Regions from separate parts of the Homo sapiens genome. Here region 1 is linked to region 2. Evidence: fine-mapped expression QTL. Tissue or cell type: whole blood. Region 2 holds a variant in brackets; the other region holds the start of a gene. All regions are shown on one strand. Distances are between the middles of the regions.

The links. PIP is the estimated chance that this variant, and not a neighbour inherited with it, causes the effect.
Region 1: it holds the start of SLAMF6, and the variant in region 2 is fine-mapped to the expression of SLAMF6 in whole blood (TOPMed, PIP 0.94).

Annotation. Positions count from the first base shown.
Region 1 is chr1:160,519,243-160,527,337 of GRCh38, forward strand. SLAMF6 (SLAM family member 6) reads right to left here and starts at 4,013. Exons shown (of 8, transcript NM_001184714.2): 1 at 3,902-4,013. The coding sequence starts at 3,950. RefSeq lists an enhancer at 3,798-3,847.
Region 2 is chr1:160,434,143-160,442,251 of GRCh38, forward strand. LOC105371467 (a long non-coding RNA gene) reads right to left here and starts at 4,035. Exons shown (of 3, transcript XR_922202.3): 1 at 3,940-4,035; 2 at 2,816-3,148. The variant C/T (reference allele first, on the strand shown) is at 3,908.

The DNA.
Region 1 (8,095 bases), 85 kb after region 2:
CAAAACCACAATAATATACCACTTCACACCTATTAGGATGGTGATAATAATCTTTTTAAAAAGGAAAAAAACAAGTGTTGATGAGGATGTGGAGAAATTATAACTCTTGTACACAGCTAGTGGAAATGTAAAATGGTACAGCCATTGTGGAAAACAGTTTGGCAATTTCCCAAAAAGTTAAGCATAGAATTATATGATCTGACAAATCCATTCCTAGGTATATACCCAGATAAAAACAGGTAGTCAAATACTTGTACACATAGCAGCACTATTCGCAAGAGCCAAAAGGCAAAAACAACCCAGGTGTCCACTGATAGATAAATGGATAAATAAAATGTAGTATATACAGAATACAAAATACTATTCAGCCAAAAAGGAATGAAGTACTGATACATGGTTCAGCATAGGTGAACCTGGAAAACATGATGCTAAGTGAAAGAAGTCAGACACGAAAGGTCATATATTGTGTGATTTCATTTATATGAAATTATCCAGAATAGGTAAACCCACAGAGACAGAAAGCAGATCGGTATTTGCCAGGGGCTGGGGGGGAGGGGAGAATGGGAAATGACTGCTTAGTGGGTACAGGGTTTCCTTTTGGGGTGATGAAAATGTTTTAGAATAATAGAAGTGGTGGTTTCACAAAATGTACAAAATGTCACTTTAAAATTATTACATCCTGTTACAAGAATTTCACCTTAATAAAAAATGTCTGAGTGTGAACAGAGAAACAATCAAAGCTGAATCTGGGTTAAGGGACCAAAAACAGAGGCATGAACACCTGGAGGTCACATTGGAGATTGCAGATTCTGAGAGGTGGAAAAACACGTGTCTGAGGATAATGAAAAAATATAAAACAGCTCTCTGCCTGTTGAGCACAATAAACATTTGAAAGATGTGGACGGTTGGTAAAAAGTAGATAACACTGCTCGGGGGCCATCAGGTCACAATCTCTTCACAGAAGAGCATTGCACATTTTGACTCAACCTCAGAATCAGCCCTCATGTGTTTGCTTTACTTACATTTCCAACCACTGCTCTCTCCTGGACCTCAGAATACCTATATCTGCTTCCTGCAAACACACTCAAAGTTAGTTTCTATTTCTTCCTCCCTACAATCCCAGTATGACTGAAGTCCATTGGAATTTAGAACCTTGCTGCTTAGTGTGGTCCATGGACAGGCAGCATTGGTGTCACCTGGGAGCCTCTTAGAAATGCAGAATCTCAGTCCCTATTCCCCAATCAGCATTTTAATAAGATTCCCCCAAGTAATTTATATGCACATTTAAGTTTGACAAATTTCCAACTTTCCATCTATAAAAATCAAAATGAAGAAACAAACGAGATTTATTTTCTCTAGGAAGTCATGATGCTTGATTTTATTTACAATTATTGTTTTGTTCTGTTAGTTTTGCCACCCAGGGCTTGAGTTAAAGGAAATGGGATTATTTTTCAATATGGTTTGTCTTTTCCACTAAATTTTCTAAAAGGAGTCAGGATAGTGCCCAACCCACTTCAAAGAATGTAGGCTGGCATGAGTCATTGTTTTTCATGGTTGTTTCAAAGATTAATTTCATTTGCCCCACATTTTTGCAACAGTGGTCTTCTTTCCCTTCCTAAATCACTCCAGGCTCTTTCCTGCATCACGGCTTTTCACACATGATTCCCTCTGCCCTAAAATCTTCTTCATTTGACTTTTCCTGTTTAACTTTTCACACCCTTTAAATATCAGATGAGATGTTACTTTTCCAGGAAGTCCTTTCTTCATCACTCCGTCCAAAGCAGGTCCCCGTGTTTTTCTCTATGAAGGTGCCCTGCTTATTTTTTTTGCTGGCCTCACATTTTCTAATTATGTACACATTTGTGTGAATGTATGACTGTGTGTAAGCTAAGTAGCATAGTGAAGTGGCTATGAGCACAGACTCCGGAGCCAAGCTTCCTGATTTCCAATTCTAGCAGCCACTTCTCTCCTCCTGGGTCTCAGAACACCTGCATCTGCCTCCTGTAAACTCATTCAAATGTGTTTCTCTTTCTATACCCATTTCCCCCATAAATGTGGGGCAGTGAGCAAGTTACTTTAGTGTTCTGTGCCTTCTTTCCCCATCTGTGAAGTGGAGATTGGAGCACTGTATATTTCATAGGGTCATTATAAGAAGTATTCATGGAAATAGGGAGAAGAAGAGGAGTTTTAACACAAGGACATTCAGAATATTTTATTCTAGAGGTGGAAATAATTTTGCAGGGTGGTAAAAATGAAGCAAAAACTCAAGATTCTGCTCCTAGATCAGGAAGTGGCTCTTGAATGAAGGAAAGAATTCTCTCTCTTTCTGCATTTTATATATATTTCCCAAAGTTCTGTTCTCATTCCAGTTTTCTCCTCAGCTTAACATATCTCTATGCCATTGATTTTTAAGTCTCTAGCCTCAGCTCTACCCCTAGTCCTAAGTTCCCAGGATCCTCCACGTAACTTCCTCATGTATAGCACACTGACATCCTAAAATCAGTAGGTCCAAAATTGAACTCACCTTCCTCCTGTGGCTGCTCTCCACCTTCCAATTTTGTCACTTTCTTTGGCTATCCTGTCTGAAATTTCACTGCCGTCTTTACCATATTTCATCTCTCCCTTTCCTTCTTGATTTATTTCTTCCTACCCAATACACTATTTTACTTGTTTATCTTTTTTTACAGTTTGTCTCCTGCTAAAATGTTAACTCCATGAGGGCAGGAATTTTTGCTTGCTTTGTTCATGATGTATTCATGCAAACTAGAAGAGTGCCAAGCATTCAGTAGGTGCTCAATGAATATTTATTCCTTTCTCATTCCAATTACCAATTACTCTACTTAACTCCATATTGATGGGATCTCTTGCTTCAGTCTCTTCTTTCTCTTATGCTGCTGCCACACTTGTTGAACTGTTATTTTTTCTCATAACTATTACAAGAGCTTGTCGCATGCTGGCTAATGAAATTTGGGCAAATTATTTAAATTAAGTTCACCTCAGTTCTTCATTTTAAAATGGAGATATTAATAGTATAAATTCATAGAATTCTCATGAGACTCATAACGTGTGTACAGCACCTGGCACAATACTTGAAATACAATAAGTGCTCAGTGAATGCTTCCTACTTTTATCTGCTACCCTGGGCTAGCTCTGGACTAGATTTCCATTGGTCTCCTGGACTATCTCTGCCTGAATGCTACACTTTGTCTCCCGTGGACCACTTGTAGTTCCCCAAATGTGATATGAATCTTCATCTTCTCCATATAATGGACAGCAGGAAACAAGAAGCCAGCTGGATCAGTTCATTCTTTTCTCACTGCCATATATAATGCATTGCTGGACTAGCTAGCCCTAATTTGCACTAAAGGAGGGGAGAGATGGAAACCTTTTTTTTTGCAATGAGCAAAAGGTGAGAGGGTTATTTTTGGTGTGTTTGGTTGGGCCCAGAAAATTTGGCTCAACTGAATAATAGGTTTTTAATAATTTAGATGAGGATAGTGAGGTTCAGGAAGGATAAGTAACCTCCCTGAGGTTCACAGTACGATAGTAGATACATTGGTATGAGGGCCCATTTTCTTGGTCTTGGTACTCTTTATAACACAAGATGCTGGTCATAAACCACAAACAGTCTTGTCTTCAAAAGCTTATTTCCTCTGCCCCAGCAAATAACTTTCTTACATGCAGACACAATTGAAATTGTTCACCGACAACCATCTCAGGCTTATCGCATCCAAAGTTGAGAGGAGGTAGTAGTATATCAGGTAACACTGCCAGCGTCCCCTTTCCCGCCCCAATCCCTTGGCAGAGAGCCAGACAACTGTATACAGACGATTTAGGTTGAGCAAGCTGCACAAAACCAGGGAGTCACTCAGTGACTACACCGATCTGGATTGACATTTACCTGGGCCAAAGCAGAAGACAAACAGGAGCGATTGGAACAGCCACAACATGCTTTCCGCGGTGAAGACTGGTGCTTGAGACCTTGAGGCAGTCAATGTTTTTGCCCTTCTGTCATAAACTGAAAATACTTCTGAGACTTCCCCTTCCTCTTAGAGGCGTGGTGACAACTTCTTCCCCTGCACTAAAAATCCTAATTTGTAACTGTGTTAATTTTTTGTTTACTTTTTTCTGAGCTAAGTGCACAAATTTTTTTTTTTTTTGGAAAAGAAGATAAAGTCCTTTATTGCATCTTTCATAAACTTATATGTAAAAGTCTGTAAGGAATTTCCTAAAATCTACTAGAACAAATAAATGAGTTCAGCAAGGTGAAAAGATACAAAATCAAAATATAAAATTCAATTGCAATTGTATATACTAGCTATGAGTAATCCAAAAATAAAATTCAAAAAACAATTCCACTCTAATTACATTAGAAAAAAATATTTAAGTATAAAGCTAAGAAAAAGCCAAAAGAAAACTGATTTTTTAAAATTATACTTTAAGTTCTAGGGTACATGTGCACAATGTGCAGGTTTGTTACATATGTATACATATGCCATGTTGGTGTGCTGCACCTATTAACTTGTCATCTACATTAGATATTTCTCCTAATGCTATCCCTCCCCTTGCCCCCCACCCCGTGACATACCCCAGTGTATGATGTTCCCCTACCTGTGTCCATGTGTTCTCATTGTTCAGTTCCCACCTATGAGTGAGAACATGCGTTGTTTGGCTTTCTGTTCTTGTGTTAGTTTGCTGAGAATGATGGTTTCCAGCTTCATCCATGTCCCTGCAAAGGACATGAACTCATCCTTTTTTATGGCTGCATGGTATTCCATGGTATATATATGCCACATTTTCTTTATCCAGTGTATCATTGATGGGCATTTGGGTTGGTTCCAAGTCTTTGCTATTGTGAACAGTGCTGCAATAAACATAAGTGTGCATGTGTCTTTATAGCAGCATGATTTATAATCCTTTGGGTATATAACCAGTAATGGGATTGCTGGGTCAAATGGTATTTCTAGTTCTAGATCCTTGAGGAATCGCCACACTGTATTCCACAATGGTTGAACTAGTTTACACTCCCACCAACAGTGTGAAAACATTCCCATTTCTCTACATCCTCTCCAGCATCTGTTGTTTCCTGATTTTTTAATGATTGCCATTCTAACTGGCATGAGATGGTATCTCATTGTAGTTTTGATTTGCATTTCTCTAATGACCAGTGATGATGAGCTTTTTTCATATGTTTCTTGGCCGCATAAATGTCTTCTTTTGAGAAGTGTCTTCATATCCTTTGCCCACTTTTTGTTGGGGTTTTTTTTTTTTTCTTGTAAATTTGTTTGAGTTCTTTGTAGATTCTGGATATTAGCCTTTTGTCAAATGGATAGACTGCAAAAATTTTCTCCCATTCTGTAGGTTCCCTGTTCACTCTGATGATAGTTTCTTTTGCTGTGCAGAAGCTCTTTAGTTTAATTAGGTCCCATTTGTCAATTTTGGCTTTTGTTGCCATTGATTTTGATGTTTTAGTATTGAAGTCTTTGCCCATGCCTTTGTCCTGAATGGTATTGCCTAGGTTTTCTTCTGGGGTTTTTGTGGTTTTAGGTCTAACATTTAAGTCTTTAATCCATCTTGAGTTAATTTTTGTGTAAGGTATAAGGAAGGGAACCAGTTTCAGTTTTCTGCATAATTGCTAGCCAGTTTTCCCAACACCATTTATTAAATAGGGAATCCTTTCCCCATTGCTTGTTTTTGTTAGGTTTGTCAAAGATCAGATGGTTGTAGATGTGTGATGTTATTTCTGAGGCCTCTGTTCTGCTCCATTGGTCTATATATCTGTTTTGGTACCAGTACCATGCTGTTTTGGTTACTGCAGCCTTGTAGTATAGTTTGAAGTCAGTTAGCGTGCTGCCTCCAGCTTTGTTCTTTTGGCTTACAATTGTCTTGGCTATATGGGCTCGTTTTTGGTTCTGTATGAAATTTAAAGTAGTTTTTTCTAATTCTGTGAAGAAAGTCAATAGTAGTTTGATGGAAATAGCATTGAACCTATAAATTACTTTGGGCAATATGGCCATTTTCATGATATTGATTCTTCCTATCTATGAGCATGGAATGGTTTTCCATTTGTTTGTGTACTTTCTTATTTCCTTGAGCAGTGGTTTGTAGTTCTCCTTGAAGAGGTCCTTCACATCCCTTGTAAGTTGTATTCCTAGGTATTATATTCTCTTTGTAGCAATTGTGAATGGCAGTTCACTCACGACTTGGCTCTCTGTTTGTCTATTTTTGGTGTATAGGAATGCTTGTGATTTTTGCACATTGATTTTGTATCCTGAGACTGCTGAAGCTGCTTATCAGCTTAAGGAGATTTTGGGCTAAGACAATGGAGTTTTCTAAATATACAATCATGTCATCTGCAAACAGAGACTATTTGATTTCCTCTCTTCTTATCTGAATACCCTTTACTTCTTTCTCTTGCCTGATTGCCCTGGTCAGAACTTTCAATATTATGTTGAATAGGAGTGGTGAGAGAGGGCATCCTTGTGCTAGTTTTCAAAGGGAATGCTTCCAGATTTTGCCCATTCAGTATGATAATGGCTGTGGGTTTGTCATAAATAGCTCTCATTATTTTGAGATACGTTCCATCAGTACCTAGTTTATTAAGAGTTTTTAACATGAAGGGATGTTGAATTTTATCAAAGGCCTTTTCTACATCTATTGAGATAATCATGTGGTTTTTGTCATTGGTTCTGTTTATGTGATGAATTACATTTATTGATTTGCATATGTTGAACCAACCTTGCATACCAGGGATGAAGCCAACTTGATTGTGGTGGATAAGCTTTTTTTTTTTTTTTTTTTGAGGTGGAGTCTTGCTCTGTCGCCCAGGCCAGAGTGCAGTGGAACAATCTTGGCTCACTGCAAGTTCCGCCTCCTGGGTTCATGCCATTCTCCTGCCTCAGCCTCCTGAGTAGCTGGGACTGCAGGTGCCCACTACCACGCCCAGCTAATTTTTCTGTATTTTTAGTACAGACAGAGTTTCACTGTGTTAGCCAGGATGGTCTCGATCTCCTGACCTCATGATCCACCCACCTCAGCCTCCCAAAGTGCTGGGATTACAGGCACGAGCCACCATGCCCGGCTGGTGGATAAGCTTTTTGATATGCTGCTGGATTCAGTTTGCCTGTATTTTATTGAGGATTTTTACATCAATGTTCATCAGGGATATTGGCCTAAAATTTTCTTTTTTTGTTGTGTCTCTGCCAGGTTTTGGTATCAGGATGATGCTGGCCTCATAAAATGAGTTAGGGAGGAGTCCCTCTTTTTTTATTGTTTGGAATAGTTTCAGAAGGAATGGCACCAGCTCCTCTTTGTATCTCTGGTAGAATTCGGCTGTGAATCCATCTAGTCCTGGGCTTTTTTTGGTTGGTAGGTTATTAATTACTGCCTCAAATTCAGAACTTTTTATTGGTCTATTTAGGGATTTGATTTCCTTCTGGTTTAATCTTGGGAGGGTGTATGTGTCCAGGAATTTATCCATTTCTTCTAGATTTTCTAGTATTTGTGTAGAGGTGTTTGTAGTATTCTCTGACGGTAGATTGTATTTCTGTGGGATCAGTGGCAATGTCCCCTTTATCATTTTTTATTGTGTCTATTTGATTCTTCTCTTTTCTTCATTAGTCTGACTAGCTATCTATTTTGTTGATCTTTGCAAAAAACAGCTCTTGGATTCATTGATTTTTGAAGGGTATTTAGTGTCTCTATCTCCTTCAGTTCTGCTCTGATTTTAATTATTTCTTGTCTTCTGTTAGCTTTTGAATTTGTTTGCTCTTGCTTCTCTAGTTCTTTTAAGTGTGATGTCAGATGTGAATTTTAGATTTCTCTTGCTTTCCCTTGTGAGCATTTAGTGCTATGTTTCCCACTACATACTGCTTTGGCTGTGTCCCAGAGATTCTGGTACATTGTGTCTTTGTTCTCATTGGCCTTAAAGAACTTATTTATATCTGCCTTAATTTTTTTATTTACCCAGTAGTCATTCAGGGCAGATTGTTCAGTTTCCATGTAGTTTTGTGGTTTTGAGTGAGTTTCTTAATCCTGAGTTCTAATTTGATTGTACTGCGGTCTGAGAGACAGTTTGTTATGATTTCCATTCTTT
Region 2 (8,109 bases):
TTTGCGTTGCAAGAGTGACATTTACTTCAGTTCTTAACAAGTTCCTCATCTCCATTTGAGACCACCTCAGCCTGGACTTCATTGTCCATATCACTATCAGCATTTTGGTCAAAGCCATTCAAAAAGTCTCTAGGAACTTCCAACCTTTCCCACATTTTCCTGTCTTCTGAGCCCTCCAAGTCTCTAGGAAGTTCCAAAGTTTCCTGTCTTCTTCTGAGCCCTCCAAACTGTTTTAACGTGTGCCTGTTACCCAGTTCCAAAGTCACTTCCACATAATTGGATATCCTTATAGCAGTACCCCACTCTCTGTTGTACCAATTTACTGTATTAGTCTGTTTTCATGCTGCTATGAAGATATACTCAAGACTGGATAATTTATAAAGAAAAGAGGTTTAATTGACTCACAGTTCCTCATGACTAGGGAAACCTCAGGAAACTTACAATCATGACAGAAGGCAAAACAGGCATGTCTTACATGGCGGCAGGTGAGAGAAGTGAGTGCCAACTGAAGGGGGCAGCCCCTTATCAAACCATCAGATCTTGTGAGAACTCACTATCATGAGAACAGCATGAGGGTAACCACCCCCACGATTCAATTATCTCCGTCTGGTCTCTCCCATGACACATGAGGATTACGGGAACAAAAATTTAAGATGAGATTTGGGTGGGGACTCAGCCAAACCATATCAATGACCAATAGAACAGAGGAAATTCATGAGTTTTACCATATTTAGATAGTTTCAGATAAGGTGACTTAATGTACTTCAATATTTGCATTAATTGCTATGGGTATAGAATGAAAGTGTGATCCTTGAATATCTGAGACATGTCTCAGTTAATTTAGAAACTTTATTTTTCCAAGGTTGAGGACACATGCCCATGACACAGCCTCAGGTCATGATGACCTGTGCCCAAGGTGGTCAGAATACAGTTTGATTTTATACATTTTAGGGAGAGATGAGACATTAGTCAATGTATGTAAGATGAACATTGGTTTGGTCTGGAAAAGGCAGGACAACTTGAAGCAACGGTGGGGCAACTCGAAGTGAGGAGGGGGGCTTCCAGGTCATAGGTAGATAAGAGACAAATGGTTGCATTCTGTTGAATTTTTGATTAGCCTCTCCGAAGGAGGCACTCAGATATGCATTTATCTCAGTGAGAAGAGGGGTGACTTTGAATAGAATGGGAGGCAGGTTTGCCTTAAGCAGTTCCTCGCTTGACTTTTCCATTTAGGTTAGTGATTTTGGGGCCCCAAGATTTATTTTCCTTTCACAAAAGTAACACCATATTTCAATAATTGTAGGTAGCATCATATATCAATAATTTAGAAATATGTTCTCAAGTTTCTTTGCCCAAGTGGTGGTCACTGTACAAACTTCAAGATCTTAACGACCTTGTAGTTAAATGTTGCTGGAAACTGTCTTATCTGTGTTTACTGTTTTTCACTCATTCTGTCATTTAACCAATATTTGTTGAGCACCTTCTATGTGCCAGGAGCTATGCTAGGTATTGGTGGCATGGCACTGAATAACATGGACATAGTCTTTGTTCTCAGATAGTAATCACTTAATTTCAAAGGTGATGAATGTAGTGATGAAGTATAGGGGACTATGGGATCTTACAGTAGGAAACTGACCAAGGTTGTCAGGAAAGGTTTCCTTGAAATAAAGGATGGGGCACAACATCTTTTTGACTGGGAAGAGCTTCCTCATTCTCTTCAATAACCAAACTCTATCCAAGAAATTGCTGTCTAAAAATTGAGTGTCAAAGTAATTGGACCTTGGAAGTTGTCAAAAGATTTCTTGAGAAGGCTAGCAAGGATGTATAGCAAGGGGAATGCTTGTACACTGTTGGTGGGAATGTCAATTAGTACAGCCACTATGGAGAACAGTATGGAGGTTCCTCAAATAACTAAAAACAGAACTACTATATGATCCAACAATCCCACTGCTGGGTGTACGCCCAAAGAAAGGAAATCAGTATTTCGAAGAGATGTCTGCACTCCCATGTTTATGGCAGTACTATTTACCATAACCAAGATATGGAAGCAACCTAAATGTCCATCAATGGAGGAATGCATAAAGGAAATGTGGTACATATATACAATGGAATTCTGTTATTTGCAACGATATGGATGGAACTGGAGGACATTATATTAAGTAAAATAAGCCAGGCACAAAAAGACAAACATCACATGTACTCATTCACATATGGGAGCTAAAAAAAATTGAAGTTATGGAGAGAGAGACTAGAATGATGTTTACCAGAAGCTGGGGAGAATAGTAGGTACAGGGGGATAAACAGGGAGTGGTTAATGGATATAACAGTACAGTTAAATAGAATGAATAAGTTGTAGTATTTGGTAGCACAATAAGGTGACTGTAGTTAACAACAATTTATTGTATATTTAAAAATAACTAAAATAGGGGAATTGGAATGTTCTTAACACAAATAAATGATAAATAAATGCTTGAGATGATGGATACCCCAATTACCCTGATTTGATCATTACATACTATATGTCTGTATCAAAACATCATATGTGCTCTGTAAATATATACAACTATTACGTAGCCATATAATTAAAAATAAAAATGAATTTCTGAACAACTAAGGGACTGCTATTTTACTAAGACTCTGATGGCAACTGAAATAAAAGTTACAAATGAATCTTTTGTTTTAAGAATAAAATCAAAGACAGGGAGAAGAATTGGAACATCTAATGTACGCTGTGTATATGTACACATAATTGCTCGACACTAAAGAGAAGAGGACCTTTGTGGAGCCCCTCATGTTTATACCACAGAACCCATACCTGGTACTTGCTATTTCTCAGCTGCCATGGTTCTTTCTGAGGGCAGCGTCTTGCCAAAGCTTACCAACCGTTTCTGAAATAGTATTTACTATTTGAGGAGAGCTCTGAGTTAAGCATTTTCAGTTCAGATGTTGTTTTCCCCTTGAATTTTCAGCAAACCATGTGGAACCTCTGCTTCCTCAGATTCCTGGTATGGTGCCATATTGTGGTCAAAGAGATGTCCAAGAAGTCCTGTTTGCCTCAGATAGTACCTCACAGAGTGTCAGTATCTTAGGAGGTCATTACTGGTCCAGACATTCTGTCTTCATTAAGTAATCAAAGGGAAATAACATTCTGGAAATGGAATAAAACCAGCCATACATATAAAAGAGCAATTATAAATAAGAATGTTAATTTATCAATTTATAACAACTGATAGATCTAGTTTGGGAACTGGAGTTGGTCATTTGTACAGGTATATTCCTGATGGGACAGTTCAAATTGATAAATTAGCATTTGTCTATTAAATACAGAACCAGACAGGAGGAATTGGAAATTCTGAAGGACATCATTAAATGTTGCAGTACTTCAGTCCCCTTTTCTCTTTTCTACATACTACCCATGGGTATCCTCATCTCATCCCAAGGCTTTAAATACCGTCTGTGTACCAGATAGCACAGCATAGTAGTAATGAACATGGGCTCTGGGGTCAACCTGCCTGGGTTTTTCTTCTGGTTTTGCTCCCAGTAGCTATGTGGCCTTGAGGAAATTTTCTGTTTCTTTATCTTTAAAATGAAGACAATAACACAGTGCCAACCTCACAGGGATGTTGGGAGTGTAACTCAGAAAATATTCATAAACTACTTAGATATGCCTGGCATGTAGTAAGTACCCAATAAATGTTAGTTATATACCAAGTACTCCCAAATCTCTATTTCTTGCCCTGACTTCTCCCCAGAATTCTAGACTTATAAATCTAAGTGCTTATTTGACATCTTCACAAAGACATCTAAGAGATATTTCACACTTACTATAGAAATTAGTAGCCTAGGGAGATAAAGATAATGTTTGTCTGTGGGGCAGAGAGCAATGATTTTACCAGGCTCTTGAGTA[C/T]GGATCTGTGTCAGTAAGCAATCTGCGCTTACTTTCAGTTTCAAGTGACTGGTGGTGATCCAGGTTCACGTAAACAAATTCTGTTTGTGGTCTACCCAAACATCTATATCCTCACTACCAACACCATTTATTTTAGCTGTGGGGACCCCTTAACTAGTGGCCACTGCCTTATTGCTTGTTGGCTTGTGCCATGGGGCTTACTGTTTCATCATAATAATAGCCCTCCCTCCTTCTGCCCAGAGGAGAAAGAACAAATACCATTTGGACAGCTTGCTTCAATCCAAACTAATACCCCTCAGCCCCATTAACAGGTAGAACAGTGGGTATCCTCATTCTCCACCTCTCACTCACTACTTGGATGAGAACAGTCACTACTGGATCCCCAGGAGTCTCTCAGATCTTCCAAACAGGCCTGCAAAAGGGCCATTGTACTTTCCTCTTCCCGAAAGCCCTATCTCTGTCAGCATCTCGTCCTCATTGCCAGAACTTCCAACAACTATGAAAAGCCTGAGATTTTATGCCACTTCTAAACTAATAAGTTTGTCTGTTAGTTTCATGGGTACTGACAAAAAACATGAGACTCCTGGGTCAGAGACAAAGGACTTTATTACACTTGGCCCAGCAGGTAGCATGAACTTCATATTTGCATTAGTTCTCCTTGCCTCTAAGTTCCACTGGGTGATACGGAGCAGCCAATCTGGATGCTCTGCATACAGTAAGTTTATGTCATGGTTGAGGAACCCTGGGATTAGGAAACCCTAGTATTTTAAAGAGCGTTTACTTGAGACACAAATATCTTAATACTGTGACCACTTTATGTAGTTCTTTCCCAGACTTCCTTTTTACTGCTTTTCCAATATTGTTTTTCATTTAAGTGACTGACAAGGTGGTCAACCTGTTAACATGCTGCCCATGATTCAATGTAGATATGTACCTCAGGCAATCTCTCCTTCCAAACAAAGTGTACAACTAGATATGCTGCTTCAAGTTCTGCCTGCTGGAGAGATTTTCTTTCATTACTGACTTTGAAGCCTCTACTGAGTGAGGTTCACTGTAGTGGAGAGGCCATTCTCATTCATCTGGGGCTGACATAGCATGCAAATCCAGGCCCATGCTCTTTCTTCCTCCATTAACTGTTCATAGGGAATTCCTCATGAGGCCGTCGGTGTAGAGCAAGGGAGAGGTGGAAGAGTAGCTGGAATTACAAAGTCCCCTGCTTATGCAGCATACTTGTGTATTCTGGACCTGTTCAGACCCATTTTTGTATATTCCACTTCTGTTTTATAATGAATTCCTGTTAGGTAATTCAGTTTTATATTTGGTGGTTCAGAAAACACCCAGTTCATGATGGACAGTTTGCGTTGCATGATAATTTGGTGTCCCGAGGCAGACATTCAATTTCTACCAGCTCTCAGAAGCAAGCTAGGAATTGCTTTTCAAATGGCGAAAGGTTGTCAGCACAAGTGGACATCAGCTTACTGCAAATCTCCTGGGGGGATATCAAAGACTTCCAAGGAGGAAAAAAATCAATCTAAATTCGATTACAAAGAAATGCAAGAGACTCCAGGCCTCAATTTCTTTGCTTTGTATAAAGGTAAAAATGATAGATTTATTACAATTTGAGTTATAAATTTAAATTTACAATTTAGTTACAATTTTAAAAGGCTAAAAGAAGCTTTTTTGTACCAAGCTGTAGAAAGTTTTAGTATAATTTGGTAAAACGATAAGAGAACTTAATTTTAATTAAGTTTTACTTACACTCCTAATAAAAAGAAACCATGTAATAAATTAAATTATTTTGTGAATTTGGGGTTAAATTATGTCTACCTTTTTTTGCTGTTTTTTCCACAGCATGAAATAAAAATGCAAGCATGGCATATTAATTAATTCAATAATTTGTATTTCTGTTTTAACAAAAAACTAAATTAAATGGAACTATCTAAATTTCAGTTGAATTAAGATAGTTAATTAAGATAGTTCTAAGATAGTTAATTAGAACTAATTAACAATTGTCCTATAAGTGAAATAAGTAATTATCGCCTATCCATTATTTAAAAATATGTAAATCTAAACATAGATATATGCAACTACATTGAGTTATAATTTAAATAAGTGGTATATCTGTATAACCGGTTCTTTTATAGAAATCTTAGGCAATATTGCAGATTATATAGACCTACAGAGCTAATCCATTTATACTGTACGTGTACAGTTTTAAGGTGTTATTGGTTTTCTGACCTTTTCTTTCCTTCCTTTGTTCCTTCCTTCCTTCTCTTGCTTTTTCTTTTTCTTTTTTTTTTTTTTTTTTTTTTTTGACAAGCTCTCACTGTGTTGCCCAGACTGGAGTGCAGTGGCAGGATCATGATTCGCTGCAGCCTCAACTCCTGGGCTCAAGCAGGAGTCCAGCTAATTTTCTATTTTTCTTTTCTTGCAGAGACAAGGTCTTGCTATATTGCCCAGGCTGGTCTTGAAGACCCAGTCTCAAGCGATCCTCCTGTCTCAGCTTCCCAAAGTACTGGGATTACAGGCCTGAGCCACTGTGCCCAACCCCATTTCTTAATAGTGTATTGCACCTGAATATTGATTTAAATATACTTTTGAAGTTTCTTAATGGACTTTGAATGCAATAGAATATTAAATTAATACTCAATAAATGTATAGTATAATATTGAATTAATAAATCTGGCAATTTTTAAAAACTTTAAAATCAAGACATAAGACATATAGTACATAGCCACTGTATAGTGCTCATGTGTTTTTAATCTCTATTTTTTAATATTTCTTCTGTAATCAATCACATTAAGATAATAAAATCAATACATTATAAACATTTAAAATAAAATACTTGATAATATGCTTTATAAATGAGAATTTTAAAGATTTAGATAAATACCATCATTTAAAATATTGTTTTGGCTATCAAACAATGTGAATGTCATACTAGGACTAGTAGCTGAAAAGAAGTGAAGATTTGCCTTTGATTATGAGTCTGTGCCTCTTGTGAGGTGCTAAAGAGTCTGTTTTTTGTTTGTTTCCATGTATTTTGTTCAGTTAGCAGAACATTGCTCTGCCAGAGTGGGCCCTCTTCTCAAAATTAACATTTAAGGCCGGGCATGGTGGCTTATGCCTGTAATCCCACCAATTTGGGAGGCTGAGGCAGGTGGATTGCTTGAGCCCAGAAGTTTGAGACCATCCTGGGCAACATGGCAAAACCCCGTCTCTACAAAAAATACAAAAATTAGCCATGCCTGTAGCCCCAGCTACTTGGGAGGCTGAGTTGGGAGGATCACCTGAGCCTGGGGTGTCGAGGCTGCAGTGAGCTGAGATCACATACTGCACTCCAGCCTGGGTGACAGAGGGAGACCCTGTCTCAAAAAAAAAAAAAATTAACATTTAAGTTGACTCTGGTTTTATGCTTTCGGATATTTCATTGATTGTGAAAACAAGGGTTTCTTACTCCTGGAAGAACAAGCATTTCTCAAGGTTCTTTTCTTACCCTCTTGTTGTGGTTGTAATAAAATCGTTGTTTTGGTTAATAACTCTGGACTTTTTTACTCACCAGTATCTTTGTTATGACCATTATCAATTGACTATATTCCCCTGGTAATTCTATCAAATGTTTCTCTTCTCCAAAATCAGATCTCATATTCAGAATTTTTGGAGACCATTAGAATGACTTTGTTTTTGCTTTTTTTTTTCACCCATAGTCTTTGGGGCTCCTTAGGTAGATGCTTGGTAGCACCAAGCTTGTGTGGTCTATCATATGGCAATTGTGAACAAAGAAAGGGCAAAAGGAATTATTAGGCATGGCTGGTTTGCTTCATGAGCCCAGAGTTATTCAATGGTATTGTACAGGTTATCCTCTATCAGGCCTTAGGGGAAAGGGGGCAGCTCAGCTCCCCTTGTGGGGGGCATTAGTAAATAGTTGGATTGATTTATATAAGCAAAGTGTTGTTCACCTACATATGCTTTAGTGACTATGTGTATCTTTATAGGATGTTCATCTAGTATGTTCATAAGTAAGGGCTTATTTGATGCTCTGCAAGCGATCTCTAAAAGACACTATTTCTCAGTTTGCAATATCCTTGTCTATTAATAGTAATCTGGGCACACATTTTATGGAACAGATTATAAAATCTGAAAACCTCAAGATTTATCAATGTTTTCACTGCCTTTAATTTCTTACAAAATTAAATGAAGGC